Linked DNA regions of Homo sapiens. The protein of the gene in region 6 purifies or fractionates together with the protein of the main gene of each other region. This does not show direct contact. Each region holds a gene or a part of one and is shown on either strand. Other genes may lie near its edges.

Region 1 (4,869 bases), on a different chromosome or scaffold from region 6:
TTGGAGGGCTTGACTCCCCAGACCCTTAGATAGGAATTTGAGTAAGAAAAGAAAAAACGGCAGAGTTCAGTCTTCACCCTGGTCTCCCATTTAGCCAGCTCTACGTGTATTAAACTCTTTCTCTATTGCAATTCCTGTCTTGATAAATTGGCTCTCTCTGGGCAGTGGGCAAGATGAGTCCATTGGGTGATTACATTTCTCTCTTCCTCTTACTAAAGTAGAGAGAGTACTTATCCAGATTTTGAAATGGCATTGATGCAGGGCAGTTTCTTGGCTTTGCTCAGGAAAGAATTCAACAGCAAGCCAGCAGCGGAAGAAAGCAGGTTTATCGAATCAACAGTGTTAAAAGCTCAGTGACTGTTCCTTGCAGACCAAGACTAGCCCACAGGCAGTGTGCCCAGAGTAGCAGCATATGGGCTGTTGGCTGGGTATATTTATACCAACTTTTCATTACATGCAAATTAAGGGGTGAGTTACTCGGAAATCTCTAGAAAAGGGGTTGGTAACTTCCAGGTGTTGCCATGGCATTTATAAACCGTCACGGCGCTGGTGGGAGTGTCTTATACTGATAGGTAGCAAAGGGAACTTACAGGTTGCTTTCCATCACTTGCTGGTTTCAGCAGGTTTCTTATCTGATCTTGGAATCACGCCCTGCTGGTCTCCTGCCTCAGCCTAAATTGAACATTGTTCAGATGTTTACAGCTACTCCTATGTAGTCAACTTCCATTTTTTCTTCTTTACCCTTTCATAATAAACTTGGAAAAATATTTAGTTTCTACCTAGGAGAAAAGTGAATAGTATAGCTTTCTGTATTTTTTGCACTTCATGTCTTAATCCCTCACTTCACCTCCCTCTCCTTACTGAATATTCATAGACACTTTGGCAAATCATAAGACACCTTTACAGATTCCTGATTCTGAGAGCAAGAAGTGATGTGATTCCTTAATCTGAACTGAATGTTTTCAAGATTTTATATAGGATAGAGCCTATTCAATACTATAATACTTTCTTCAGTATCCTGCGAATGAAAGAAAACTAAGCGCAAGAAAAGTGGAGAATTTTGCTGCTTTTGTTTCATGTCCTGCTGGATGATTGCATCTCCTTTTTTGAGCATTTTTAATCACAGATGAATCCATACCCATATTATAAAAGGCTTGTTGCTCTGGGCGGCTCTGGCCACCTCTTTTATTACCTCTGTTTTTAGCTCACACATAGCATTCCTTTGTATTTTCCTTTTTTTTTTTCATATTCGCAACTTCTGTCACGTATAAAAGGGAACAATGGCAAAAGGAAAAAGCAGGCTGAGCTCTACAAGCAATGACTTAGACTCCCCCCGCTAATTCAAAAGGAAAATTGCAGGCTGGCGGGAAGCTCAGCCCTACAGAGGATTCTGGGACGTGTGGTCCAGACTTTTGGGGGCACTTCAGCTCTGGGAAAGCGCGGCTTTGTTATTTGCTCCCCTGGGGAAATAGGAACCTATACCCCAGTGCTCAGTGGGTTCGGTGGTACTTCGACTATTTGAGGACGAGAACACGAAGCCCGCTCCCCTTGGGGATTCTGAGAAATAAGATTCGGCCGTGGGAGTCGAAGCCCGCACTTCCGCCCAGGGGGCGGGGCAGCGGCTTCCGTTCCTCCCGGGGATGCTGGGAAATGTAGTTCCAGAGCTCCCTGCTCTCCCGGGCACTTCCGCGGCAAGAGGTTGAGAGCGCGGCCTTCATTCCTCTCGTGGAAGTGAGTGAGTCCTGGGACCCCGCGACCTGTTTTAACTTTTATGGTTTGGTCGTAGGATCAGCAGGGCTCGCACTTCGGTCAGCAGGAAAAGACGCTGCGGCGAGCAGCGGAGGGCGGAGTTGAATGGCTGGGCAGCTGATTGCCTTACTGTATCCGGAGCTGCTGCGTTCGGGGCGGTTCGGGAGTCCCCTGGTTGGAAGTGGACCTGAATGGGGAGGCGTCTGAGGATCTCCTGGGCTCTCAGCGGCCCGACCCGCCTTCCCCCACCTCCCACAGCTCTGTAGCTTCCTAGCGGTGTAACGTTGGGTGAGAACTTAATCTTTCGGTGCTTAGTTTCTGGTCTTAGTTTCCTCTTCTGCAAAAGGAAATATTAACCTTATATATTTGTTTTGACAATTAGTAATATAGTACAAGTAAAATGTGTATGGAATAGTACAGGAATGTGGCAACATGTCGGCCGTTAATATTAAAACTATCATAATAAAAAATATTCATTTTTCAGCAAGCGCCTGGCTCTTCTTTCTGATTCCTGCAGGAAAGGAGGCTGTTCTTGGACTATGCCTGACCCGTTTTTTAAGAAAGAGTGCATCACTCAACAGGTGGCGTCTGGAGTTATCCTCTGTGGATTTTCCAGGATCTCAGACAAGATCGTGCAATCTCCCAGCCTCCTTTCCTTCCCCTGCCCTGACTTCTGAAAGAATGCTGCGGGAGAGGAGGAAGGAGAGCATCCTGGCTTCTGGCAGCAGAGCCCCACTGTGACAGGACCTAGCATTCACCTTCCTCTTCTGTTCCGAGTGCGAGAAGGTATTTCATTCCTTGCAAATGTTTCTGCTACAGAAGTGTTCCGTTATTGTATAATTGGAGAAAATGTGACATGAATATTAGTCACACTAGTTAAACATTGGGTGCTGAGTATCACTCTGAGGGCTTTATAAAAACTAACACACTGAACCTTCACAAAGGCCTTGTGTTGTGGGTTCTGTTCACCTTACAAAGGTGATGTGGGTATTGTGATATGGGTACTGTTATTACACCAATTATACAGATGAGGAAATGGAGAGAGCCTAATTTACTTTCCTATATCACAGTGCTAGTAAGAACAGTGGGATTTGTGTCCTAGACTTGGGTTCCTTACATCTGAATACCCTTGGTCTCACAGTTTGAAATCCCAATTTAGAATTAGGAAATAAAATAGATAAATGATCCATATAAATAATCATAGGAAACTGGCTGCAGAGGAGCCATTTGAGATCAAGTTGGGGAGGGAGGTTGGAATTTTACTGTAGAAGATTTTGAAAGCAAGGTTGAGTTTAGACTTTAGAAAATTTTGAAAGAATTCTCATTTAATTTTAAGCAATATTAGTAGTTCATATTTTGATCATAGAGATGCACGTTCTCTGTACAGGATGTAGAAAATACAGAAATATAAAATATTACAAATTTCCTTAATACTAGGATATAGATAATTATTAACATTTTAATGCATTTCTGTTTAGCAGTTTTTAATGTGTTTTTGTCTGTGTTTTATGAAATTGTTATCACACTATTCATAGTGGGTTGTTATTCCCTTATTTTTTACTATGGAAATATCCAAACATACCCAAATATAATGAACTCTTATGTACAGTCACCCTGCTTCCATTCTTGCTAATCTTATTGCCTCTCCCACCAACTTTTTTTCCCTTGAGTATTTTAAAACAAACCCAGATGATGAGTCAGTAAGGCTTAAAAACTAATAATTATCATTAATTGTGTTTTTTGTTTTTTGTTTTTTTTGAGATGGAATCTTGCTCTGTTGCCCAGGCTGGAGTGCAGTGGTACGATCTCAGCTCACTGCAACCTCTGCCTCCTGGGTTCAAGCAATTCTCCTGCCTCTGGCTTTACAGGTGCCCGTCACCACGCCCTGCTAATTTTTGTGTTTATAGTAAAGACTGGGTTTCTCCATGTTGGCCAGGCTGGTCTCAAACTCGACCTCAAGTGATCCGCCCACCTCAGCCTCCCAAAGTATTGGGATTCCAGGTGTGAGCCACCATGCTAGGCCTCACTAATCGTTTATATATGAAGGCCAAGGGAGGGGCAATTATATTCATTTGCCAGGGCTGCCATAAGAAAATACTACAAATTGGCTGGATTATACAGAAATGTATTTGTTACAGTTCTGGAGGCTAAAAGTCCAAAATCAAGGTGTCACCAGTTTTGGTGGCTTGTAAGGCCTCTCCCCTCTGTGTGCGTGAGCTCCCTTGCTGTAAGTCAACTTCATCACCTCTTTAAAGGCCCTATTTCCAAAGACAGTTATTTCTGAGATACCGAGCGTTAGGACTTTAACGTTTTGAGAGAGGCACACACAATTCAGCCCATAATAGATATTAACAGTAACTCTGAGGTTTTTCACTCCTGGCAGCTAGGAGAATGCTACTTATGTGAGAAAGCTAGAAAGAGTTGCAATTAGGAAAAGAAAGATGATTGATTTTCTTTGCTTTTTTGGAGTTGCACTTGCCACTGGCATATAACTCTTGGTTTCCTATCTCTCTCCCATTAGACTTCAGGGACCTCTGTTTCATGGACATTATCATATTCTTCTCAAGAGTACCCAGCAAGAGGTTTGCAAAGAGGAGTTATTCAGTGAGTAAGTGATTCATGTAGCTCTCCAACAGGCATCTGGATTTTGGGTGCTACAGCTTGCAATTAGAGAACAAAATAGAAGGATTATCCACAGTCCTTGTCTGTTATCTCACGTTTGGTGGGCTGTAGAATCCATCAACTTTTTCAGGGTATTCAAAAGTTGATGAACAATTGTGGATAATATTGTCAAGATCTAAAACAAACTCCCTTAAAGACAAATCAGACCACTATTAAGGTTCAGTTTTTTGGGTTTTTTGGTTTGTTTGTTTTTTGAGACAAAGTCTTGCTCTGTCACCCAGGCTGGAGTGCAGTGGCGCGATCTTGGCTCACTGCAACCTCCGCCTCCTGGGTTTCAGCAATTCTCCTGCCTCAGCCTCCCCAGTAGCTGGGATTACAGGCGTGCACCACCATGCCCAGCTAATTTTTGTATTTTTAGTAGAGACGGGGTTTTGGCATGTTGGTCAGGTTAGTCTTGAACTCCTGACCTCAAGTGATCTGCCCGCCTCCGCCTCTCAA
Region 2 (4,196 bases), on a different chromosome or scaffold from region 6:
AAGAAAGCAAGAGTCTGGATTTAAATCCCTCGTAAAATTGCCTTAGTAAGCAATAATAAAATTTCCCAGCACATGACTGGGGTAAGTAATGAATTGTTGAAACCTGCAAAGAGCCCTAAATTATAAGAATTATGGGGGATCGGAGGAGGAAAATAAATGAAAACAGAAGACCATAAAAGAATACTTTGCATTCAGTAGAAAACCTGTCAGTACTGTAGGACAAAAAGGAATAGATTCTACATTTTACATCACCAGTGATGCCTCCTCATGGTTTAACCATTTCTTCCACATTCTGCCTAAAGGGAAAACTGTGTCAGCAATTGCTTTTGGTTTTTAAAGTTATAGGTTGCTACTACATGGATGTGACTAAGAAAATACATAGATTATCTTAAAATGGGCATGATGTAAAAGACTCAATCAGTAGGGTAACTAAAAACTTTGTAGTACTCTAGCTTTGGAAATCTGAGAGGCCTATATAGTTCATTTGAGTGTTTGATCAAATTCTTATTGAGATTACAGCCTGTGCAAAATATTTGTGATGCATTTTTAAGTTTACTTAAGTACACTTTGAAATTCTTTAAAAATTTTAAAATCTTTAAAAGGACACAAGAGTGTACCACATTGAGATTAAAATGTGTTTATTATTAATTTGTACATAATACTATAACAAATAATTGTTCTCAGGTATGTTTAAGGCCTTATTTTAAAAGTTGATTCTTCAATTTCTAATTTAAAATAAGCTTTTAGTTTTTCTCAACTATGTATATGTAATGATTATAGATGCCTAGAGTAGTGTTTCCCAGACAACTAGAACCACACACAAATTAGTACCACCAAAAAAAAAAAAAAAAAAACTTCATGAAGAACAGGGATTACTGGTCAAAAAATACGAGAAACACTTCATTTCTGTTAGGAGTATATTAAAGGCTTTTGAGAAGACCACTAGTTAAATGTGTTTTCCAAACTTGATCACAAAACTCAACTATAATATCTATAAAGTTAGTCCATAGCACAAACATGCTTAAATTTGTTGGATAAATGCATAAACTGTGAAGACATAAACACACTTTGGCAACTGCTGGTCTCTTTAAGAGATGGAATCTACCTTTTAGCTACCAATAAATTCCATACCACATTTCATTGATTTAAAAAACACATCTTTTTAAACATCTCTGAAATAGATCAGGGGAGGCTTGCTATCACTGTTGGCCAAATGGCTTTCACTTAATTGTCTAGGTAACATCATCTACACTTAATTATTATTTCCTAATGACATAATTGGACTATTGCAATCCTTGAGCTTTAAATCAGCAAATCATTACAGAGGAATGTAAGGAATACAAGCCTTGGTTGTTACCTGAAAATCTTCGGTAGGCACCTCCCATTAAACACAGAGAGCATCTGTTCAGATCTTGCAATTTCTATGGAGAAATTTTAGGAATAATCTCATCAGTTTATTTTGCATGTACTTTTTGCTGTTCAAGAGAATTATAAATGACAAAATTGATGGATAAGTCCTAAAGAGTAAACATTGATCTGGGCATAAATTGACAGTGGTTTTTCATTTTTGTAATGTATAATATAAGGTACACTTTTATAATTAATGGTGTCCTAAATACAATCAAAAGCACTGTTTATAATACAGGGTTTTTTTTTTACAGATAAAGCATATGATATAGTCCAGTTGACCCTTGAATAACGTGGGAGTTAGGGGTTCCAACCCCCTGTGCAGTTGAAAATCTGCATAAAACTTTTTTATTTCTCAAAAACTTTACTAATAGCCTACTGTTGACTGGAAGCCTTACTGATAACACAGACAGGCGATTAATATGTATTTTGTTATGTGTATTATATACTGTATTCTTACAATAACGTTAAAGAAAAAATACTAAGAAAATCATAACAGAAAGTATATTTACTATTCATTAAGTGGAAGTGGACCATGGGAAAGGTCTTAATCCTTGTCTTGTGTTGAATATACTGAGGAGAAGGAAGAGGAAGGGTTGGTCTTGCTGTCTCAGGAGTAGCGGAGGCAGAAGAAAATCTGCATATGTCATTCAAGGGTCAGCTGTACTTTCCTTGATAGTTTCACTTATTCTAAAAGATTAATCCTACTTTAGAATTATAGAATTGGTATTTGTACCCCATTCTTGCTAATTATCTTATAGTTTTGTGTGTGTGTGTGTGTGTGTATATATATATATATTTTTTTTTCCTTCTATTTAGTTTAAAGTTCCTGCTGCAACAAGTGCAATTATTACCAATGGTAAGAATTCACTATAAAATTATGTATTACCTCAAATTTATAGAAATGGTGTAAAAGGAACCAAATTAATTAAAATTAAATACAAAAAGCCCCAAGTATATGTATATCAACATAAATGATATACTTACTGGTAAACACTAAGTCAGGGTTATTGTTAATAATTAGCTCCTTTCATTTCTTTGTATATAGCTTTTGATATAGTATAGCACTTTATAATATCTTTTGTCCTTACCAGTTCATGCCAGATTATAACTGAAAATAACTTTATTTAGCAAGTTTTTTTTTTTATTAAGTAAAGTTGTTTGGTAAATGCTTTAGAATATAGAAAGTTAAGCAGGAATGTATCTTTGCTATACCTTTCCTGATAGAAAATTGTTTCTTGTAGGCTTGCAATAATGAGAATTTTATTCCGTTTTAGGTATATAATTAAAAATCTTAATATCTTGGAACACTGATAATCAATGATGATGGAATTAGTCTTGTGAGAAAATAGTGAAATAATAAGATGAGGAGTAAAGATTGCAGGGAGGGCTTAACTGTGTTTCAAGTATACAATGCAGTATTGATGAGTGCTGATGCGTTGCCCAAGTGCAGTTTGGACAGGAGATGGGCTTAATGTGCGTGATGTAACTTAGATAAGGTAGAATTTCTCACTCTAAAATATTCTGCATTCTGTCACATTGAAGTGTTTCTCTGTTGGAAAAAAGCTGGCTTACTACCTGGAAAGTTTTAGGTCATAACTTAGTAACGTGTTGAACTAAATGACTTTGTGAGCTCTCCCAGCCTTAAGATATTATGACCTAGAACAATACGAAGATGATTCATGGCATACCTAAGGGGCTTTTTAGTTTTTTGGAAGAAAGGACAAACATTATTTTTAATTCTATATGGCAAAATAGAATTAATAACCTATATTCCATAGAACTTACCAGGATCATTGCATTGACAGACGTTTTTGTCTAACCCAGCAATGTGTATGAATGCAGAATAATAGTAGATTTCAACAGATAATTTACCTGAAAGATTGTCACTCGTGTTCTTGGATTTAAAGTGTTTGGCTTATGTCTATATACACAACAGCACTATTTTGGCAAATCTCTTTCCTTGCTACTATTTAACCATTTTAGCTTTAGAAATAATGTATGTGATTTTACAACTTATTTTCTAGATGGAATAGGAATAAATCCTGCACAGACTGCTGGTGAGTATTTGAAAACTCATAGAGGAGTGGGTGGGGTTATATATGTCAATTGACACTGAATAGTTAAGCTATTCTAATTACACTTGACAGTATTTTAACATAATGGAGCTGTTTTTTAGGGATTATATACCAGTCTTTACCTGTGTGTCTGAGTAATAAGTTGTTTCATTGTGTATATTGATTGTAGATGTTTTTGGCTACAAGTAACAGAAAACCTAATAGTGGCTTAAGCATTAAGAGTATTTATTATATATAACAAAAAGTCTGTAGATAAGATTGCTTTCTAATTGGAGTATTTTTTGACCTACCTCTTAAGGTAGTTGTGAGATAGTGACTGTAAAGTGCTTCATAGCTTGGATTATTTATAGAAAGCATTCATTAAGTGCTATTATTTTTTTTAAATATAGTCATTTACATTTCAAGGGGCTGAGTCTACATTCAGATCTTCAAACTGTTAAATTTATACAGGTGATATATTGGTGTCCTGACCAGGAGACAGGGTAAAAGTAGTCTCATACTTTATAAAAAGAAGTCTAAAACTTTTTTAAAATTAGTTTTATATTTTTAAAATGTAATCTCTTAGGCTTATAATCTAAAGTTTTAAAATTAGGCATGCTTTAATGTAACCTCATTCTAGAGCAGTAGTTATTTTTAAATTATATTCTAAAGTATTTCTTTATTGTAACAAAATTATGTTGTTTTCACAGGCCTTGCAGTTGAAATTCAGCC
Region 3 (4,196 bases), on a different chromosome or scaffold from region 6:
GAGTACACATCAGCTTTGGCATTTTCTCTTGACAGTCTCATTCTCACTCACAGTTCAAGTTGTTCTGTCTCCTGGGACATCTTGTGTGGTCTGTTCTGACTTCTCTGCTAGTGTCATTACCACATCAGCATCTGATTCCAATGCATACTGTCTGGGTTTTTTATTCCTTTCCCTGCAGAATGATGACACATTAGACATGGACTTCTCCCAGTGGCCAGAAATACCCATCAAAAAGGCCTGTGCGGGCCTCAGACCCTACCCTACTCTTGCTGGTTTTGCTCCCCACACTGAAGCCATGTAGCCTCTGACAGCCTCACTGGCCAACACCATATTCTGATACCTGTGGAGCTATTTTTTTGTTTTTCTTTCTTTTTCTTTTTTTTTTTTTGAGACAGAGTCTTGCTCTGTCGCCCAGGCTGGAGTGCAGTGGCACAATCATAGCTCACTGCAGCCTTCAACTCCTGGGCTCAAGCAAATCCCCCACCTCGGCCTCCTAAGTAGTTGGGACCAACGTGTGTGCCCCCACACCTGGCTTGGAGCCTTGTTTCAGCCCATTTTCTCCTTCCCTCGGCTATCGTCATCCTTCATGCCTGCATGCCTCAGTTAGGGGTGTGTTCTCAGCATTTGTCCTCATCTCTACCTCCTCATCTGAAATCCAGTGTTTTGGGGGGTAAGGTTTTATTGAGGTGTAATTTATATACAGCACAGTTGTACAATTTTAAGTATACAATTTGATGAGGTTGAGCAAACGTATACAGTTGTGTAACCAGCACCACAATCATGATATGGGACGTTTCCATGACCCAAAAATGTCCTCATGCCCCTGTGCATTCAGTGGTCTCCCCTCTCCCCTTGGTAACCACTATAGTTTTGCTGTAGATTTTCCTCTTTAAGGATTTCATATGGAATTTATATTATGTGGTCTTTTGTCTCTGCTTTATTTCGCTTAGCATATGCTTTTGAGTTTATCCATATTGTTGTGTGAATCAGTAGTTTGTTCCTTTTTATTGGTGAGTAATATTCCATTTGTATTAGTCTGCTAGGGTTGCCATACAAAGTATGGCAGGAGGGCTTAAATGACAGAAATGTATTTCCTCACAGTTCCAGAGGCAAGAAATCTGAAATCAAGGTGTCAGCAGGGTTGATTTCTTCTGAGGCTTCTCCTTGGCTTGTAGATGGCCACCTTTTCCCCGCATCTTCACATGGTCTTACCTCTTCTATGTCTGTGTCCAAATTTCCTCTTCTTATGAGGACACCAGTTATATTGGATCAAGGCCCACTGCATTGAATTCATTTTAACTGAATTACTTCTTTAAAGAACCTCTCTCCAGGCCGGGTGCAGTGGCTCACGCCTGTAACCCCAGCATTTTGGGAGGCTGAGGTGGGTGGAACACTTGAGGTCAGGAGTTCAAGACCAGCCGGCCAACATGGTGAAACCCTGTCTCTACTAAAAATACAAAAATTTAGCTGGGCGTTAGTTCTCGCCTGTAGTCCTAGCTACTCAGGAGGCTGAGGCAGGAGAATCTCTTGAACCCAGGAGGCAGAGGTTGCAGTGAGCTGAGATTGCACCACTGTACTCCAGCCTGGGTGACAGAGTGAGACCATGTCTCAAAAAAAAAAAAAAAAAAAAAAAACCTCTCTCGGAGTTACCAAGCATTGAGACATAAGAATTTGAGGTGAGGGGTATACATTTCATCCCATTGCTCCATTGGATGGAGCAAACTGCTCCGCAGTTTGCTTATCCATTCACCAGCCGATGGACATTTAGGTTACTCATAGGCTTTTGCTATTACAAATAAACCCGCTATAAATATTTGAGTACACGTATGGCTGTGCATTTTAATTTCTCTTGCATAAATACCTAGGTGTGAAATTGCTGAGCCATATAGTAAATATATGTTTGTCAATTTTATTGATCTTTTCAAAAAACAATTTTTTTGTTTTATTGATTTTTCTCTATTTTCTGTTTTCCATTTCAGAGATTTCTGATCCTTATTATCTCCTTGGTGTCTTAAGATTGAAACTTACTTTACTTACTTTAGTGTCTTAAGATTGAAACATAGATATTGATTTGATACCTTTTTTCCTCATATAGCATTCAGCGTTGTAAATTTCTAAGCACTGCCTCAACTATATCCTACAACTTTTGTTATGTCACATTTTCACTTTTATTCAGCTCAAAATAGCTTCTAATTTCCCTAGTGATGTATTCTTCAGCCATATGTTATTTCAGAATGTGTTGTTTCATTTCCTAATATTTAGGGCATTTTCCAGATAACTTTCTATTATGGATTTCTGATTTAATTCTATTGTCATCAAAGAATGAACTTTGTGTGATTTAAAGTCTTTCAAGTCTACCAAGATTTATTTTATTTCCCAGAGTGTGGTTTATCTTGGTAAATGTTCCACATGCCCTTGAAAAAATATGTATTATGCCTTTGTTGGTTAGAGTGTTATGTAAATATCAGTTAAGTCAAGTTGAATGATGGTGTTTTTTAATTGTTCTGTCAGTTTTTGCATTATGTATTTTGAAGCTCTTTTAGTAGATACATTTATATTTAGGATTGCTATGAGTTCTTAATGAATTAACTGTTTTATCATTATGTAATATTCTCTTTGTCTCTGATAGTCCTCTCTCTGAAATCTACTTTGCTATTACTATAGGCACTTGAGCTTTTTTTTTTTAAATTAGTATTTGCAGGGTTTATCTTTTTCTATCCTATCACTTTTAACCTATCTTTGTATGTAAAGTGGGTTTCTGTAGCTTGCTTTTTGAATTCAGTTTGACAATCTCCACCTTTTAATTGGAGTGTTTAAACTATTCGCATTTAGTGTAATTATTAATATGGTTGGATTTACATGTCCTTTTTTTTTTTTTCTTTTGACAGAGTTTGGCTCTTGTCACCCAGGCTGGAGTGCAGTGGCGCAATCTTGGCTCACTGCAACCTCCACCTCTTGGGTTCAAGCAATTCTCCTGACCTCAGGTGATCTGCCACCTTGGCCTCCCAAGTGCTGGGATTATAGGCGTGAGCCACCCCACCCGGCCTTGCTATTAGTTTTCTATGTCTTATGTCTTTTTTGTTTCTCATTTCCTCCCTTAATGACTTCTTTTGAGGTAAACACATACTGTTCTAATATACTCTTAATTCCTCTGATTTCATTAATATTTTTCACCTTTTAGTTATTTGATTGGATGCTGGACATTGTGAATTTTACTTTGTTGAGTAGGTTTTTGGAATTCCTTGTTTCTGGGATTTGTTCTGGGATGCAGTGAAATTACTTGGCATCTATTTGATCCTTTCAAGGATCAAAGCAAGTCTGGAGTTGGGTGGTGGCCAGGATGCCCAGGCCCAGGGGGAGCAGGCAGGAAGGATTGGAAGGCAGTCAGGTGAGGACTGCAGGTAGCCTCTCTTAGTCCCTTGGGGCACAGAACTTGCTGATATATACAAGGTTTCCTTCCTTAGAGTGTAATAACAGTTTCTAGTCTGGGATCGGATCCTTTTGCGTTACTGAGCTTTGAATAGAGTTGCTGGGATTTTTGTACTATTAATATTCTCTCAAATTTTTAAGTTTGAAATTCTTGACTCCAGGAAGCATAGCATCTCACCCAGGACTTAGAGCCTGATACAACAGCCATGTACAGCCCCTGGGTCCCACCGCAAGTTGCCAGGGCCCTGTGGTGTCTATTCAGACCTGCTTTCCCAATCTAGAAGGTGGTGTGGGAATGCATGCCAATTCCCAGCCCCCCTCCCTGCCCCTGGTCCCCGAATTCAGTCATGGTCAGTGTCTACAGCACAACCTTCTGGCATGGGAGAAGGTCACCTGAGGTTAACCCTTTACTTGTAGGGTCCTTAATCAATCTCTGGCTCCTTTGGAACCATGGACACAGAATCAGTCCTGGGTGAGAACCTATATGTCATTTCAGGAATCGGTGAGTTTCAAGGATGTGGCTGTGGACTTCACCCAGGAGGAGTGGGGTCAACTAGACTCCCCTCAGAGGGCCTTGTACCGGGATGTGATGTTGGAGAACTACCAGAACCTTCTTGCCCTAGGTAAAATCCCCCCAGCCCCAGGCTGGGCGTCGGCTGTCAGCCTTCTTCTACATGGTAGATATTAAGGAGAATCCCTTCAGTGCCGGCCCTGGTGCCAGATATATCATGGGGTGGGAAGCAAGGCCTGTGCCTTGGGGCACTCAT
Region 4 (4,196 bases), on a different chromosome or scaffold from region 6:
CTAGTGTATTAGTCTATTCTTGCATTGCTGTAAAGAAATACCTGAGACTGGGTAATTTATAAGTAAAAGAGGTTTAATTGTCTCACGGTTCTGCAGGCTGTACAGGAAGCATAGCAGCTTCTTGGGAAGCCTCAGGAAACTACAATCATGGCAGAAAGCAAAGGGGAGGCAAGATGTCTCACATGGCTGGAACAGGAGGAAGGGGAGGGGAAGATGCCACACACTTTTAAACAACCAGGTCTTATGAGCACTCATTCACTATCACAAGATCAGCACCGAGGGGGAAATCCGCCCCCATGATCCAGTCACCTCTCACCAGGCCCTATCGCCAAAATTAGTGATTACAATTTGACATGAGGTTTGGGTGGGGACACAGATCCAAACCATATCAACTAGTTAGTTATATACATGGGAACTAAGTGATGTGCTATAAATGCCAAAGCATCAAACTGGCACTCAGAAGACCTGAGTTTTAGATCTTACTCTGTACTCAGTGACCTTATACAAGTCAGTCCACCTTTCTCTGACCATTGTGAGATGGGGTTATAATTTCTGCCCTGTCTTCTTTACAGGTTTGTTATGAACAGTTTTGTTATTTTACCTATAAAATGAAATACTGGAGATCAAAGGGGTTTTTAAATGTTCAAAAACTGGAGGGATTAGCTAATGATTTTCTGTTGCTTCCTGGTTCTGGGATGTTCTGACCAGAAACAATCTAAAGAAGCCAAGTCTCTTCATCTCAGAGCTTGGAAATAGCCCTGAGATAAAGTTAGACAAGAAGGTTAATATTCTTAAATTTAAAGCTCAGAGGATCCCAAATCAATTTCCATAAGAAGTTGAGGGTCACTTCATCTCAGAGGTGTTTTTTCCCATGAGTCTTTGTGTCAGATAGCTCTGTGTCATGACTTTTCCTTAAGCAGCCAGGATCCAGACAAGGTAAGAGGCAGAAGGGTCTGTGGATTTCCTTGTTTGTTTAGGAACTCTAAAAAATATTGTTTTTGTTAATTGGGCAAAGAACAAAGGCCTCCTCCAAATGTAGGCTTTTTGGAAAATTTGAGACTGCTAATTTTCTCTAAAAATTGCAGCGACTATTTGCAATTCTCAAATCTCATTGTATATGAGTGACAATTTTGCTTGCCCTGACTGAAAGGTGAGGCAAGATGGGGACAGGTGGGTAAGAGAGACAGGTTAATTGTGGGGAGAGGTGTTGATATTTCCTTAAAGATGACTCTCATAGCAATGTATCTTTCAGATGTTTTGTTACCCAGCAGTGAGCATCAATCCCATGCATTTACTCGTTCATGCATGAATTCATTTAACAAACCCTGAGCACACGTGCCAGTTACTGTGCTAAGCAATGGACATGGGGAAATGTAAAAGATAGGGTCTTAGCCCTCTAAAATTCAGTCTAGTGAAGGAGACAGACGCGTAACATAAAAGCTTTCAGTGGAGGTATGAGAGGAGAGCTATGAGGGCACAGGGGAAAGGGCAAAAAGCTGTATCAGGAATTGGAGAAGGCTTATTGAGGAAAGTGACTTTTGTGCTGAATGTTGAAGGATGTGCAAGAGTGTGTGATGAAGAAGAGGGGCTGAGATGGCAAGGCACAGTTTAGGTGAAGGAAACAGCAATGGGCAAAGAACCAGGTGGTTTGGATGGCCATTCATTTGAGAGCTTTCCATTAGGTATGACAACCTTGGAAAATTAATCTCTGAAAAATACCCAGATCAAGTTTGAATAATTATTTTGTGTGCATTTGGAATGAGCATCATCTACCTTCCGCAATTTGGCACATAAAAAGAAAATGATTGATTTAGGGAAGGTTTAAGAACCTACTGAAGCACTTTGTTTTTTCTTTTTTCTTTTTTTTTCTGAGCTGAGCCTTTTCCTCCCACCCCAATTCTGTTGAAAGCAATAAAGCTAAATGGTAGATCAATGGCTTTGCCAGTAAAATACCCAAGTTCCACTGGGGACTTTAACTGGATGAAATTTCAGTTCAATCCTGGGTCAGTAGTTTTAGAAAATATATAGGTTTGGGACTTGGTTCAAAGTGATTCACTAAATGTTTTGTTAATAAAAAATAAAAGGAGAAAAATATTCTAAGCAAAAAAAATGCCTATCTGGGTTTGATTCTGGGCTCAAGAAATGAGTGCAAGTCATTCCAGGTTTTTGCCATAATTTAGTTCAAGTCCTGGTGTCCAACTTTGTGATGAAACACCCCCATTTAATTTTCTGTTCAAATTGTTCTATTCTGCTGTAAAGGCTATACAATAGCCATCTTTTTAAAAAGGCAGTATCTAAATCTAGTGATAGCTGCAATGGACTTCTGGTTAAATAGCTTAGTTTAGGATAGGCACATCCAACAAGTTGTTCCTACCTGAGAAAATCTTTGATAAGAAAGAATAAAGAACTAAGTAGAAGGATATTCCTTTCAATTAAAAAGACACATGCTTAAAAGATAGGGCTAGTAAACTGTTTAAGAATTATAGCTATATGCATCTGTCTTCTCGCACCTGTGTACAGATAGTGAGAGTCTGGGAAGGCTGAACTGAGCGGAAGTCAATGGGAGAGTAACTTTAGTAGCAGGAATTAGTGCTGCTGTGGCCAACAGAAATTCCAGGTTCTAGGCCCTATATTTATTATTGTATTTAATACTTGGATCAGCCAGAGGTTAGATAATCTCTTAGTCACGTTTTACAGATGAGTCAGCTGAGGTTTGGCTAAGTTAGGTAACTTGCCTATACAGATCCAGGGTAGAGTTACAAAGCCCGTATTCTGTGTGGATCCAGAGCTGTGCCCTTAACCACTGCGTCTCAGGTAAGAGCTGTAGGACTGAGTAATATGACACATTTCATGTCTAACTCACCTAAATTAGAGAACCTAAGCTTTAAAGGGTTCTAGAGCAAAATGAAGATAAGCAAGGTGAGTTGGAAAGTATAGAAATTTACATCATTGTCTGTATATAAGATAGATATATAAGGTGTATAAGATAGATGTATAGATATAAAATAAATATCTAAGATAAGAGATATAAGATAGATATGTAGATATGATAGATATATAAATGTATAAGATATGTAAGATAGAATAAACCGTGCAAGTAAGTAAGATGAATGAGGAGATTCAGATTCCCAGCTTCCCACAGGACTTCTCCCCTGACATGTTTTCATAAGCAGCTAAAACTCTATGTCCCGGACTGACCTCATTAGTACCCCTTCCTCCTTGTCACCCCTTCACCTAAAACCTGTTCTTCCTGCTGTGGTCTTGGAGGCCTCTTCCCCTCTCTAAAGTCATCTCTCATCCCTCTCCCACCCCACTTTAGAACTGTGTGAAAGTTACTTTTGAATTCCTGGTGCCTAGTCCCATGCCAGGCCCACAGAAGGCATGGGTGCTTGCTGAGTGAAGGATGAATAAATATTTCAGTGCTGAGTAGCGTGCACCCCCCAAATGGACTTCCCCTACTGATGATGCACACAGGCAAATTTAAACCTTTCAACTATTTGTGTCACCCACAGATGAACAAATGCAAAAAAAAAAAAAAAAAAGAAAATAATCATGAGAGAAAAGAGAAATACAGCATTAAATATTTTAAAAAGAATAATAGGTTATCTCAGAGTATTTAAGGATTCTATTTTCCTTTAAAACTGTGCTTTTAAAGCATAAACTATATTCCTGGTCATTTAGTATTTGCTTATATTTGGCTGTTTTAATAAAGGCATATTTTAAGACACAATGCGGAAATTCATGGTTATAAATCTGAGGAGGAGGCAGACAGAGGAGTCACTATTTGAATCTTAATGGCCTCTTGACTAGAAGGGCCCTGCACCTGAAGTGCTCTACTCCCACCTGGTGGTGCAAGCAGAAAACTGCCAACATACATTTTAATAATTTTTTTTGTGTGTGTGGAGACCCAGTCTCACTTTGTTGCTCAGGATGGAGTGCAGTGGCGTGATCTTGGCTTACTGCAACCTCTGCCTCCCAGGTTCAAGTGATTCTACTGCCTCACCCTCCCAAGTAGCTGGGATTACAGGCGCCCACCACCACGCCCAGCTAATTTTTGTATTTTTAGTAGAGATGGTGTTTCATCACATTGGCCAGGCTGGTCTCGAACTCCTGACCTCAGGTGATCCACCTACCTCGGCCTTCCAAATTGCTGGGATTACAGGCATGAGCCACTGCGCCTGGCCAAGAATTTTTTT
Region 5 (3,538 bases), on a different chromosome or scaffold from region 6:
AAGAACAGAGCAGAAACTCAGTTTTGTTCGCTCGCTCTCCCCCTGGGAGGACTCGCTTTGCCAGTCAGGACCCTGGGTGGTTACTGTTGTTGCAGGCTTCAAATTCTCTCTGTGAGCTGCTTGTAGTCTGTCCCAGGATCACCTGCCTCCTCCCAGTAGCCTCGCCTCTCCAGGGTTTCAAGTCCAAGGTTCTGGGTTCTGAAATGGGCCCCCTGTCCAGCTGCAGCCGGCTACCCTATGGGTGCTGGCCAGAATCCCAGCTCTACCCTGTGTCCCTGCTGTGCTAGGCCCAGGTCCCTTTCCCTGGCCACAGAGGGGAGAGTCTCCTGCAGGTTCTGAAACCTCTGTGCAGACAGCATCAGCCTCCTCCTTGCCCTCCTCCCAGAGAGCCAACCCAGCTTCCCACCAGGCCTCGCAGCCAGAGTGGCCCCCAAAAGATGATGCTCTCTGGGGACAGGGGCAGGGCAGGGCCATTGTGATGAGACTGTATGCTGGCCCCACAGGCTTGTGATGCCTGGAAGAAAGAGGCGGAGGAGGCTGGTGAGCGGGCCAGTGCGGCGGGCGCCGAGTGCGAGCTGGCCCGGGAGCAGCGGGATGCACTGGAGGTGCAGGTGAAGAAGCTCCAGGAGGAGCTGGAGCGGCTACACGCGGGGCCTGAGCCCCAGGCCCTGCCCGCCTTCTCCGACCTGGAGGCGCTCTCACTCTCCACCCTCTACTCCCTCCAGAAACAACTGCGGGCCCACCTGGAACAAGTGGACAAGGTCAGCCCAGGTCGGGGAGCACTGGGTGGGATGCACGGTGGCCTCAGCCAGCTCTTGGACTCTGACCTGGTCCAGGCTGCTCCAGGGATGGCCACCCTCCTGAGAGCCTCTGCCCAGCACTGGGCCAGCACTCAAAAGGCCGGCCTGCTGGGAATGGGTGAGGAGAGTGCACTGGGGAAGGTGAAAAGGCTGGGGGTGAGGGGTGTCGGTGCCACCCCCAGCACCCCTGAGGGCGGCCCTGACCAAGCTTCTCACAAATGCCTGGGCCCCAAATGCGTCCTCCTGTACACCCTCCATGGAGCAGCGGGCCTTCCAGTGAGGCCCAGGACCCCAGGGCTACCCCTGCCTTCCCAGGTCTCCTGCTGGGTCCCCGGGGCCAACGTGGCATGGTGGGAAGAGCTGTCTTTCCTCTGTTCTCGGGCAGCCAAGCCCCCGGGTGTGGCCCTGGGCATGTCCCAGCCCTTTCTGGGCCTCATTTTCCCCATCTGGGGATTACAAGGTCAAATGAGACTGGGCGAAGCCTCTCTGAGGGGTGGGTCTTGTGGCAGCCTGGCCATGCCCCATGCAGAGGTGGACTCAGCCTGCTCTCTCACCTGCCAACAGGGGTCTGGGAGCACACTGTTGAGCTCGGTACCTCAGTTTTCCCATCCCAAGGGGCTGCAGTGAGGATCAAGGGAACTCCTCGCTCAACTTGGGGCCAGACCCATGGATGGTGACCACGATGCCCCTTTCCCTGCAGGCCGTGTTCCACATGCAGTCGGTGAAATGCCTTAAGTGTCAGGAACAGAAGCGGGCAGTGCTGCCGTGCCAACACGCTGCGCTGTGTGAGCTCTGCGCTGAGGGCAGCGAGTGCCCCATCTGCCAGCCTGGCCGGGCCCACACCCTCCAGTCGTGACCCTGCAGGCCTGGCCCAGCCTGGCCCAGATCTTCTCACCTAGGACTTTTTAAAGTATATATATATATATGAATATATATATATATGTGTATGTATGTATGTATATGTATATGATTATGTATATGTATACATTTCCGTATGTATGTATATGTATACATTTCCGTATGTGTGCAGGTATGCGTGGTGGTGTGGACAGTGTCTGTGTGTATATCTGTACATAGATATAGACACACACTTTAAAAGACTTACCAAGCACTTTTTAAAAGAAGAAACTATTTTGCAGTCCTCCCCTACCCACTCCCTGCCCTTCCCACTGCAGAGATGACATCCCCTCTTCTCCCACTGGCCTTTTGGCAGAGAATCTGGTTCTGTCTCTTTTTTAATGTAGGAACTAACTATTTTTAACTTCTTCCTGGGGCCTGAGCAGGGAAGGGTGGGACTGGAAGGCACTAAGGGGAAGGGAGAAGCCCTCAGGGCAGGCCCTGCTCCCCCTACCTCCTTGCCAGGGCAAGGGTGGAGTGTGGAAGACGTGGGTCCCCCAGAGCAGGCCTGGCCCCCAGCTGTGAGGGCCTCAGGGAGGCCCGAGGGGGAGTGCTGGGGGTCTCAGCTGGCTTAGCTCCTAAGTTTACCAAATGTTAATTTAGTCTTGGGGAGAACAGCAAGGGCTGGAGGCCAGTGCTGCAGGGCCAGCCCCACTCCTGACACCTGGGCCCTTGAAGCTCCTTGAGGGGCAAGGCCCAGGAGTTCCAGCCCTCAGGTTCCTGAGGGTCCACCCTCAGTCCTTCCCCCCGCCGCCCCTCCCCGGACTCCCCACAAGAGCCTCCCTGGCCCCAGGGCCGCCTACCAGGCTGGTACTCATTCTATGACCACCGCCCCCAACCAGCTGCCCCCAGCTCTCCCTGCCCCCTCCCCTCTCTGGCAGCTAGCAGGGCAATTGGCGGGGAGGAGTGCGGACTGAGGACTGAGGACCAAGGGGGCCCAGGCCCTGCCCTCCTACCCGGAGGGGCTCCGTTTGCATTCCTTGGTGCTCTCTGAGTGCAGCTGGTGTCCCGCCCTGTTCTGGGCGGACGCCTGTGTGCGTGTGTGTGTGCCTGTCCAGTGTATATTGTGTCTTAGCTTCCATTTTAAAAATTGTTCTGTACAGAGAGAGATGCAGCAGGGGCGGGAGGGCAGAGTGGGCGGAGGGGAGCAGCCGCACCCCCAGCACCGGGTGTCTGCGGTAGGAACAAGAGGGCTGAGAGGGTCTGGTCCTGGCCCAGGCTCCCCCTTGGGCTCAGCACGAAAGGGCTTTCAATGAATTAAGTGAAAACTTTTTCCTTTTTTACAAAAATGCAAAAATCAACAAAGCTCCAAACCTATTGGAAATAAAATATGAACTTGCAGTGGTAGCTTGTTTACATGGGGGTGAGGGGGAGTGGGTCCCAAAAGAGGGCCTCTGAACTATGAGGTGGGCCAGGAGCCTTGCCTCAGCCATGGAAACGGCTGCTGCCCACACCCCTGAGCTGTGGTAAGGCAGCTGGAGAGGGCTGGAAACTTCCTGGGCCCATCAGGCCCCAAGACAGTTCAAGTGCTCTCCGACCTAGGCCTAGCGGTTGATGACACAGGGACCCTTAGCCTTGGACACAGAGGCCCCCCAGGCCCTAGGACTCTTTAGGGCTGTGTGGTCAGCGGTGACTGGCAATAGGGCCCGTAACTGTTTCTCAGAGGAACAGTGTCTTCCCAACTGGGCATGGTGGCGCATGCCTGTGGTCCCAGCTACTAGGGAGGCTGAGGTGGGAGGATCACTTGAGCCCAGGAGGTCGAGGCGGCAGTGAGCCATGATTGCACAGCTGCCTCCAGCTTGGGTGACAGAGTGAGATCCCATCTCAAAAACAAAAACAGG
Region 6 (4,196 bases):
AATTACATTGTACAGGGCTAGGCAACCCTGTTCTTCCCAGACAGCCATATTAAATGAAAGCCACTAAAGTGAACTCTTAATTACATAAAACATATCCATTATCTGATTGCCCTTTAGGAAGTATACTGAAGATGCAAGTTTTTTTCATCTGGAGTTCTGCCTGACCAAGAATTAAGCCTATAAATCTATCTTGCCATTCAAGCAGAGAGCACTGGACAAACTGAAGCACAAAAACAAATAAGCAAAACTTATACAAACAGCATGGGGGTTGGGGGTGAGGGACTTAAAAGTAGACATGCTACACCTAATGTCAAGAAGCAGCTTGGTTTCCTTTGCCAGATATCCTTGTGACGACATGGATTGTAGATTCAATGGTCCTACACAGGGTATCTAAAATGTCATGTTGCTGCATATGACTAAAGAGTCCTCTGGAATGGCCACAACTGAGAGATAAAGCAACCTCAGGGTCCTGGGAGGGCAAAGCTTGGCCATCACAGCTTCTCAAGTCAGCTAAGTCAGACAGAACTGCAGAGATAGAAGTAGAAGGGAACTCAGATTCTTCCTCAGCTAGGGTAGAATCCTTGGAACAGTGGAGGTCTTTAAATTCTTTACAATCGTCATATCTACCATTGTTGGACTGTTCTTCTGCATGCTGTGACCTGATATTTGACATGTCTTCTGAAAACGAAGATGGAACTTCCATTCGGTATTCTTTAACAGAACTATTTTCAGGGGAAGGAAGATCTTGCTCAGTTCCTGGATCAATAATTGAGGAGTCTCTGGTCTCATTGTCAGAAGTGCTCGTTGGGGTCAGGACCTCCCTGGTTTCTGTTTTCATGTCACTGATGCAGCTGTCTACAGTGTGCTCCTCATCACTGCTAACACGCCGCCTTTTAATGGGAGTTGCTCCTTCATCATCTGTGAAAACACATGCCAAAAGGGAAACTTCTCTGAAAGTCATTAAGATCACGTTAGGGGGGGATGTGGGAAGTTAATTTTGTTTCTAGCATTTATATTTAGGAGGTTCAGCTGAACACACAACTCTTAAACCAGTTACACCAAGTGTATTACTCCCTCCTCCCACCCTAAAGGTAATGATAGTAGTCCATAAAGCTAACCTTTAGTTTTTCTTTCTTTGGCTTCTTGCTCTTGGAGTGAGTTTCTCTGTTGCAGACAAGTCCTGCATTTGCTTAAAAGCTCTTGCAGAGTTGGAATTAGAGCTGGGTTTAACTGTTTGGGAGTGTGTACTGACAGGAGCAAAGCGAGTGCCCTCAGGTCCTACAAAAACCCAGATAGGAACATTTCAAATTCTAAAGCCAACACTTTGATGCAGTTGTTTACAGTTAATTGCAGATGTTTATTTTCCCAGGAATCCATTCTTTCCTAAGAATACCCTGGTTTCTCTGGGATTCTTAGAATGATAAAACCAGAAAGCCAGTGTTAAGATACTACAGCATTTCATTAGTTGTTTTTTTTTTTTGTTTTGTTTTTGTTTTTTTTGAGATGGAGTCTTGTTCTTTGGCAAGGCTGGAGTGCAGTGGTGTAATCTCGGCTCGCTGCAACCTCCACCACCCGGGTTCAAGCGATTCCCCTCCCTCAGCCTCCCAAGTAGCTGGGACTACAGGCGCCCGCCACCACGCCTGGCTTAATTTTTTCTATTTTAGTAGAGACAGGGTTTCACCATGTTGGCCATTGAGATGGTCTCAATCTCCTGACCTCGTTATCCACCGGCCTCGACCTCCCAAAATGCTTGGATTGCAGGCATGAGCCACCGTGCCCAGCCTCATTAGTTCTTAAAGTCACTAATAGCATTATTTTATGCCCACGAACCAGTAAGTCAGACCAAAGCCTGAAATAGTGTTTTCTGAAAAATGGAAAAGGAAATATAAGAATTTTAAAAACAAACCTTGAAATCAGTTTCTCAAGTTAAAATTCTGATGGATGTCACAAATAGTAAGGTCTTCCTTACTGAGCTCTGTCATCTGTTTTGGCTTTTATGCATACTGTGATTTGGGAGGCTGCTGCTCAACATTCTAGCCCATTTCCAGAGTGTTCCATTATTCTAGGACATGGCTGTCATGGGAGTCTGCACAAGGCAACTAATGCTCTAGATTTAACTGCCTTTTTTAAATCAGTAGATCATTAATTGTTTCAGTTACATAGGAGCCATAGGCAGTAATAGAAACATCACAAGTATTGTTTCCAAAAATATACCCAACTAGAGATAAGACCACTAAGATGTTCCCTTTATTACCTTTCAGCATTTAATGATACCAGCTTGTAGCTTCCAAGGTGATAGAGTGTGCTGTGTACATACAAGGCATAGTAAACGTGTATTTAAAACTTGTTTTTTTGTCGCACATGGCTTAAGAGTTTGAATCAGTAAGTTAAAGTTACGAGAGTAAAATCATATGAAGGCCACACAGTTAACTGAAGGACAGTTTAAAAGTGTGTGCCGCCGCCTCTGCATAGTTCTTACCCCATTTAAAGAAGCACTTGCTTTGGAAATTTCAACTCGGTTGGAGAAATCAGACTGTAGGTTCTGATACTGGCTTATCAAGTTTGTAATAAGAGTGCTGATCAAATTGGCACAGTTTGCTTCAGAAAACACTTGACTTTGAACCTGAAAAAGAAGATTTAAAAAAATCTCCAAAAGACCAGCATAATGAAACCACAAGCATTAACTAATTAGAAATGACACACTGAGTTTCCAAAGTACTACGTACCTTTAGAAGGAAATGTGTCATGAACGTGTAGACAATGTTGTTGTTTAAAAAAGTTCTTTCATCCATTAGGATACATTTAATATATTCTGCGAAAACAGGATCTTCACACAAAAGCTTGATGCAGTTTTTTGACATAGCAGACTAAAGTGGGGAGAAGATGGTTGAGCACTTACGGTTGAGCACGGAAAAAACTTACACGGAAAAAACTTACACAGAAAAAACATACACTTGTGTATGATGGAATCTGAAGCCACTGAAAATCCTACTTGAAAAGCCATGTCTAACTCACCTATTGAATTTTTAGTTAACAGCAACTATTTTTCATACAGTAAAATGTTACTAATTTAGATTAAGGGAGTGCTGGGGGAAGACACTGATGCCGAAACTGAACAAATGTTTTAAAAGAAATGCAGGTTTATTATCCAGCACTGAGAGAGTTAACAAGGACTGGAAAAATAAGGCTAACAAAGAATAGGATGTGAATGTTTTCAAGGGCCAAATTAATGTATTTATAGGTAACCAGAGCATATGTTGCAAAAAGACACATTTTAAGAATCAAAATCAATTCTCCAAAATGTTTTAAACTTTACTGTATATTCTCGCTAGCAACAGTAATTCTGTAAATACCTTTTCCCCCCATAAACACTGCAAGGGTAAACAATAAATCTTCTTTCCTAATTATCTCACACAGAATCAGTGGTCTCAATATATGGAAATTTTACTAAAATTTGGTTTTCCTGTTTTCAAATAGTCATGGCTCTTAAACACAAGTAGTATGTCTTTAAGCAGATACACTCCATAGATTTAAATGTGCATTTTAATAATTTATATGGAAAAAAGCAATATATTTTTTAAATAGGACAAAATTTAGATTATATATATATATATATGCATATGTGTATATCTTATTAAAGTATGCAGCTGTCATAAGTAAATTACTCAAGGTCAGTCAAGAAATTAGGATTCAAGTAGGACCAAGACCCAGGTCTTGAGATCCTTAACACTAGGAAAAACCTGCCTTGGTCTACCAGTCACAGCCTGTGCCTCTGCCTCTGTTTCTTGCTCAGGATGGCTGCTTCTATAGCACTGGAAGCTTTGGAGGCCTTATATGGTTAGGCTTTGTTTTAAGGGAAATTTGGGGGCACAGTGAGTTCTGTCTGTGAAAGAAGTCAAGCGAAGGGAGTCCTGCGATGCAGAAGTAGAGAAAGCAATAGGGAGCAATAGGTAGTGGGAGAGTACAGAAACCAAGAAACTACCCAAATCAGGAAGAATGAAAAAGAACAGCAGTAGCAGTGGAGAGGGAAAACGAGATCTCCAATTGACTGAACAGAACACTCAGCTCAAAAATCAACTGATAAAAGTCATTTTCTGAATGCCTACTGTATGCTAAGTCAAGTGAGCTAAGATCAGTGTATACTAGCCTCTGAAAGATTTCTACTGTAGAGAACAACGTGGCATTTCTTCAGGGGA
Region 7 (4,196 bases), on a different chromosome or scaffold from region 6:
AACACCAGTCGTGGTACTTCAGATGCGTAGGGAATGTTACTCATCCACCCTTCTTCAGCCATTTCATTACTGAAGTACTGTTAAGTTTATGCCACAGCCATTATGTTTTTTCTTAAATTCTCTTTGCCATTTAGAAACTATAAATGCATAGGAACTCAGTCCTTTCCTACTGAGAGTTTGTCACTCAATTCTGCATATTACTGCCAGGGTGAGCTCACATGACGCTGAAGCCAGGTCCTTGTTAGTGGGATGAAGGTGACACAGCCAGATGAGTTTTATCTCTGCAGCTGGGGATCACCAGCTGCAGCAGACCTCTCAGCGGCTCCATCCTTTACTTCTTTTAAAGCTGATTATTTCAGTTAACAAGAAGAAGATTCCCTGTTTATTTTTTGCATTTACTAGTATTTTATTTCTAAAATACTAATCTGGGACCGGTGGTAGATCAGAAAGTAGAGCAGTCAAAAAAGACAAAAATCCCTGACCTCATGCAGCTAAAATATTAGTGAGTAAAGACAGTAAAATACACATAATAAGGTGAGAGCATGTATTTCTTCACATCTACACTAATACTGAGATAATATTTAAAGTCGATTATTGTGAAACAGATGTGAAAGTGCCCCCAAGTTGGCTGGGCGCGGTGGCTCACGCCTGTAATCCCAGCACTTTGGGAGGCCAAGGTGGGCGGATCACAAGGTCAGGGGTTCGAGACCAGCCTGGCCATCATGATAAAACCCCATCTCTACTAAAAATACAAAAATTAGCTCGGCGTCAGGGCGGGCGCCTATAATCCCAGCTACTCGGGAGGCTGAGGCAGGAGAATTGCTTGAACCCTGGAGGTGGAAGTTGCAGTGAGCTGACATCGCACCACTGCCCTCCAGCCTGGGCTACAAAGCGAGACTCCGTCTCAAAAAAAAAAAAAAAGAAGTGCCTCCAAGTTGATGCAGACTATTGCCATCTAAATGTTTACATGTGACTATGTCACAAAGATTCTTTTTCTGGATATTGTTAAAACTTATAAATAAGTTGTACATGATAAAATGGCATTGATACTGCATTTAGCATACAATTTTGCACTTAGATTTGAGAGCATTTTTGTTGAAAGAGATTCAGTAGTTTCATACTAAAGTTCCAAATATTACAGAAGTTTCTCAGCTATAGAGCAACTTCTGAGAATTTTTTAATATATCTGTTTTTGGTCTTTAAGATTACTACCACTTATTAAGCACTAGAGGGGAAAAAGAGAAAGCCACAGGTAACTATTTTTTTTTTAACTCATCTTCTATGTGTGATCATACAAGCAATTTATTGTAGGAAATTTCAAAATATAGAAAGCATCAAGAAAAAAACTAAAAGCAGCTGGGTGCAGTCGCTCACACCTGTAATCCCAGCACTTTGGGAGGCCGAGGCTGGCGGATCACAAGGTCAGGAGATCAAGACCATCTTGGCCAACATGGTGAAACCCCGTCTCTCCTAAAAATAAAAAAAAATTAGCTGGGTGTGGTGGCACATGCCTGTAATCCTAGCTACTCGGGAGGCTGAGGGATGAGAATCCCTTGAACCCAGGAGGTGGAGGTTGCAGTGAGCTGACATCGTGCCACTTCACTCCAGCCTGGTGACAGAGCAAGACGCCCTTTCAAAAAAAAAACTAAAAGCAACCAAAATCTATCCCATTACCCAGGGGATAACTACTTTTTGTTGTATATTCTTAATTTTTTTTCCAAAAGTAAACATTCTAATAAAACATACAAAACTATTATACATTTTAACTTTCCTGGTAATGGATTAAGTCTTAATGTTCAATTTTGTTTCAAATACATATTTCAGATTACTGTTTATTTCAGGTTCGCGGACCTTCCCGAGCTGATCCTAACCATCTTGTAGATGATCTGCTAACACCTTGCTCTCCAGGTGACCCTGGTGCCATTGAAATGACATGGATGGATGTCCCTGGAGATAAACTTTTGGAGCCAGTTGTTTCCATGGTTTGAAATTTTGTTTGTTTTTAAGAAAATATTTTAAAACATTATACTTCATAATTTTCAGTTATATAAGATTTGCTGGAAAATCTTAGTATAAACAGGTGTATTTTACTTAATATTGTTGACTCATTAAAAATTATGAAGTTAATTGAACTTAAAATATAAAAAGTCATTATTTTTAAACTATTTTCTTGGGTTTAGAGGAACCTTTAAGTGAAAAAGCTATTTTTTAAAGCACAAGATTCTGACTTTACAGGTCTTATAGCTAGAATATCTCCAAAATGCTCATATATAGTATAATTATTGTAAAGACCTAACTAAAAAATAGGGTTGGTGAAATATTTTTTTTCCCCTGCATCTCAGATTTTTTAAAATAACCAGAAGTCACCTGTAATCCCAGCACTTTGGGAGGCCAAGGCGGGCAGACCACTTGAGGCCAGGAGTTTGAAACTGGCCTGGCCAACATGGTGAAATGCCATCTCTCCTAAAAATACAAAAATTAGCCAGGCAGTGTGGTGCACACCTGCAATCCAGCTACTCAGCTGAGGCAGGAGAATCACGTGAACCAGGGAGGCAGAGGTTGCAGTGAGCCGAGATTGCACAACCGCACCCCAGCCTGGGCAACAGAGCGAGACTCTGTCTCCAAAAAAAAAACAAAAAATAGGGCCAGGTACGGTGGCTCATGCCTGTAATCCCAACACTTTGGGAGGCCGAGGCGGGTGGATCATGAGGTCAGGAGATCGAGACCATCCTGGCCAACACGGTGAAACCCCATCTCTACTAAAAATACAAAAAGTTAGCCAGACGTGGTGGCACGTGCGTGTAGTCCCAGCTACTTGGGAGGCTGAGGCAGGAGAATAGCTTGAACCCAGGAGGCGGAGGTTGCAGTGAGCCGAGATCATACCACTGCACTCCAGCCTGGGCAACAGAGCGAGACTCTGTCTCAAAAAACAACAACAACAAAAACAAAAACCAGAAATACTAATGCTTGTATCATTGTTTTTATAGTGTTTTCTATTTCACTTCTCAAAGCTCCATAGAAAGTTTAAATATTGTAGTTCTATTTTTATTTTTAAAAATTACAGTTAATATAGTTTATATTGGAAGAATTAAAATAATCTACAAGACTTACTTTGCAAGGCATGTTATTTTTAGGGAACTTAGGGTGATTGAAAAGTTGTTTACTTACAGAAGAACATTCTCAGTTTTCAAAATTTTCTGTCAGTTTCAGATCTTCAAAGACCTTTAATGGCAGGTTTAATAGTAACTTCCAGAGGAGAAACTTTTACACGGTACATAGATATACATGTAAATGTGTATACACCCATATATTTGTGTGTGAACTAACCATAATGCTTATCTGAGAAGTTACTCAGAAACCCCTTTGTTTTAATCCTTGGTGTATTATTTTTTATTTTTTGTACTTTGTTCAGCTTTGAAGAATTTTTAGTAACTTAGAGTGGTCCTTTTCATTATTTTTCATATCCTTTTACAGGAGTCTAGGCTTAGAAGTTAGTTTTTTAATGAATCTCTGATATTAGCATATTTTTCTAACCATTTCGATCTTAATTGTAACTAATTATTTTAAAATTCTGGTTAGTAGATTTTTCATAGAATGGTATTCTGCTTCACTTAAGTGTAAGTGAATGATATTTTCCTTTTGAATTATACTGACTTGGAAAATTGATCTCGTTTAAGAAAAAGAGATAAGGCCAGAAATTAGATCATGAACATACTTTGGAGGCCTTGATCCTCAGACTAAGGGGATTGTCCTTCTGATAAGTATTGGGGAGCCATTTGATCAGTTCAGGGGAAGAAAGTATACGTTTCTACACAAAGGAATAACATGATCAAAGATCATGAAAGATCTGTGAAAGAATAGGGGCCGGGTGCAGGGGCCCACGCCTGTAATCCCAGCACTTCGCAAGGCAGAGGCAGGCGGATCACCTGAGGTCAGGGGTTCGAGACCAGCCTGACCAACAAAACGAAACCCCATCTCTACTAAAAATACAAAAATTAGCCAGGTGTGGTTTCAGGTGCCTGTAATCCCAGCTACTTGGGAGGCTGAGGCAGGAGAATCTCTTGAACCTGGGAGGCAGAGGTTGCAATGAGCCAAGATCACGCCACTGCGCTCCAGCCTGAGCCAACAGAGTGAGACTCCAACTCAAAAAAAAAAAAAAAGAATAGGGAGTTTATCGTTAGTATCTTATGGCAGAC

The links.
Region 1: the proteins of USP34 (region 6) and ZNF45 purify together in Homo sapiens (co-immunoprecipitation; one large-scale study listed by IntAct). This does not show direct contact.
Region 2: the proteins of USP34 (region 6) and UFM1 fractionate together in Homo sapiens (co-fractionation; one large-scale study listed by BioGRID). This does not show direct contact.
Region 3: the proteins of USP34 (region 6) and ZNF74 purify together in Homo sapiens (co-immunoprecipitation; one large-scale study listed by IntAct). This does not show direct contact.
Region 4: the proteins of USP34 (region 6) and VSIG1 purify together in Homo sapiens (co-immunoprecipitation; one large-scale study listed by IntAct). This does not show direct contact.
Region 5: the proteins of USP34 (region 6) and UNK fractionate together in Homo sapiens (co-fractionation; one large-scale study listed by BioGRID). This does not show direct contact.
Region 7: the proteins of USP34 (region 6) and VPS4B fractionate together in Homo sapiens (co-fractionation; one large-scale study listed by BioGRID). This does not show direct contact.

The regions. Positions count from the first base shown.
Region 1 is NC_000019.10:43,932,092-43,936,960, reverse strand, and holds the start of ZNF45 (zinc finger protein 45), read left to right. Parts: upstream 1-1,678; 5' UTR 1,679-2,037; exon of another isoform or gene 2,038-2,266; 5' UTR 2,267-2,535; exon of another isoform or gene 2,536-4,270; 5' UTR 4,271-4,357; exon of another isoform or gene 4,358-4,869. UniProt on the Homo sapiens protein: May be involved in transcriptional regulation.
Region 2 is NC_000013.11:38,355,867-38,360,062, forward strand, and holds part of UFM1 (ubiquitin-fold modifier 1), read left to right. Parts: intron 1-2,226; coding exon 2,227-2,266; intron 2,267-3,434; coding exon 3,435-3,467; intron 3,468-4,174; coding exon of another isoform or gene 4,175-4,196. UniProt on the Homo sapiens protein: Ubiquitin-like modifier which can be covalently attached via an isopeptide bond to lysine residues of substrate proteins as a monomer or a lysine-linked polymer.
Region 3 is NC_000022.11:20,396,707-20,400,902, forward strand, and holds part of ZNF74 (zinc finger protein 74), read left to right. Parts: intron 1-2,888; exon of another isoform or gene 2,889-2,984; intron 2,985-3,925; coding exon 3,926-4,052; intron 4,053-4,196. UniProt on the Homo sapiens protein: May play a role in RNA metabolism.
Region 4 is NC_000023.11:108,068,369-108,072,564, forward strand, and holds part of VSIG1 (V-set and immunoglobulin domain-containing protein 1 isoform 2 precursor), read left to right. Parts: intron 1-4,196.
Region 5 is NC_000017.11:75,822,762-75,826,299, forward strand, and holds the end of UNK (RING finger protein unkempt homolog), read left to right. Parts: intron 1-503; coding exon 504-761; intron 762-1,500; coding exon 1,501-1,656; 3' UTR 1,657-3,038; downstream 3,039-3,538. UniProt on the Homo sapiens protein: Sequence-specific RNA-binding protein which plays an important role in the establishment and maintenance of the early morphology of cortical neurons during embryonic development.
Region 6 is NC_000002.12:61,187,792-61,191,987, forward strand, and holds part of USP34 (ubiquitin carboxyl-terminal hydrolase 34), read right to left. Parts: intron 2,868-4,196; coding exon 2,727-2,867; intron 2,624-2,726; coding exon 2,480-2,623; intron 1,279-2,479; coding exon 1,119-1,278; exon of another isoform or gene 919-1,118; coding exon 311-918; 3' UTR 1-310. UniProt on the Homo sapiens protein: Ubiquitin hydrolase that can remove conjugated ubiquitin from AXIN1 and AXIN2, thereby acting as a regulator of Wnt signaling pathway.
Region 7 is NC_000018.10:63,391,195-63,395,390, reverse strand, and holds part of VPS4B (vacuolar protein sorting-associated protein 4B), read left to right. Parts: intron 1-1,841; coding exon 1,842-1,982; intron 1,983-4,196.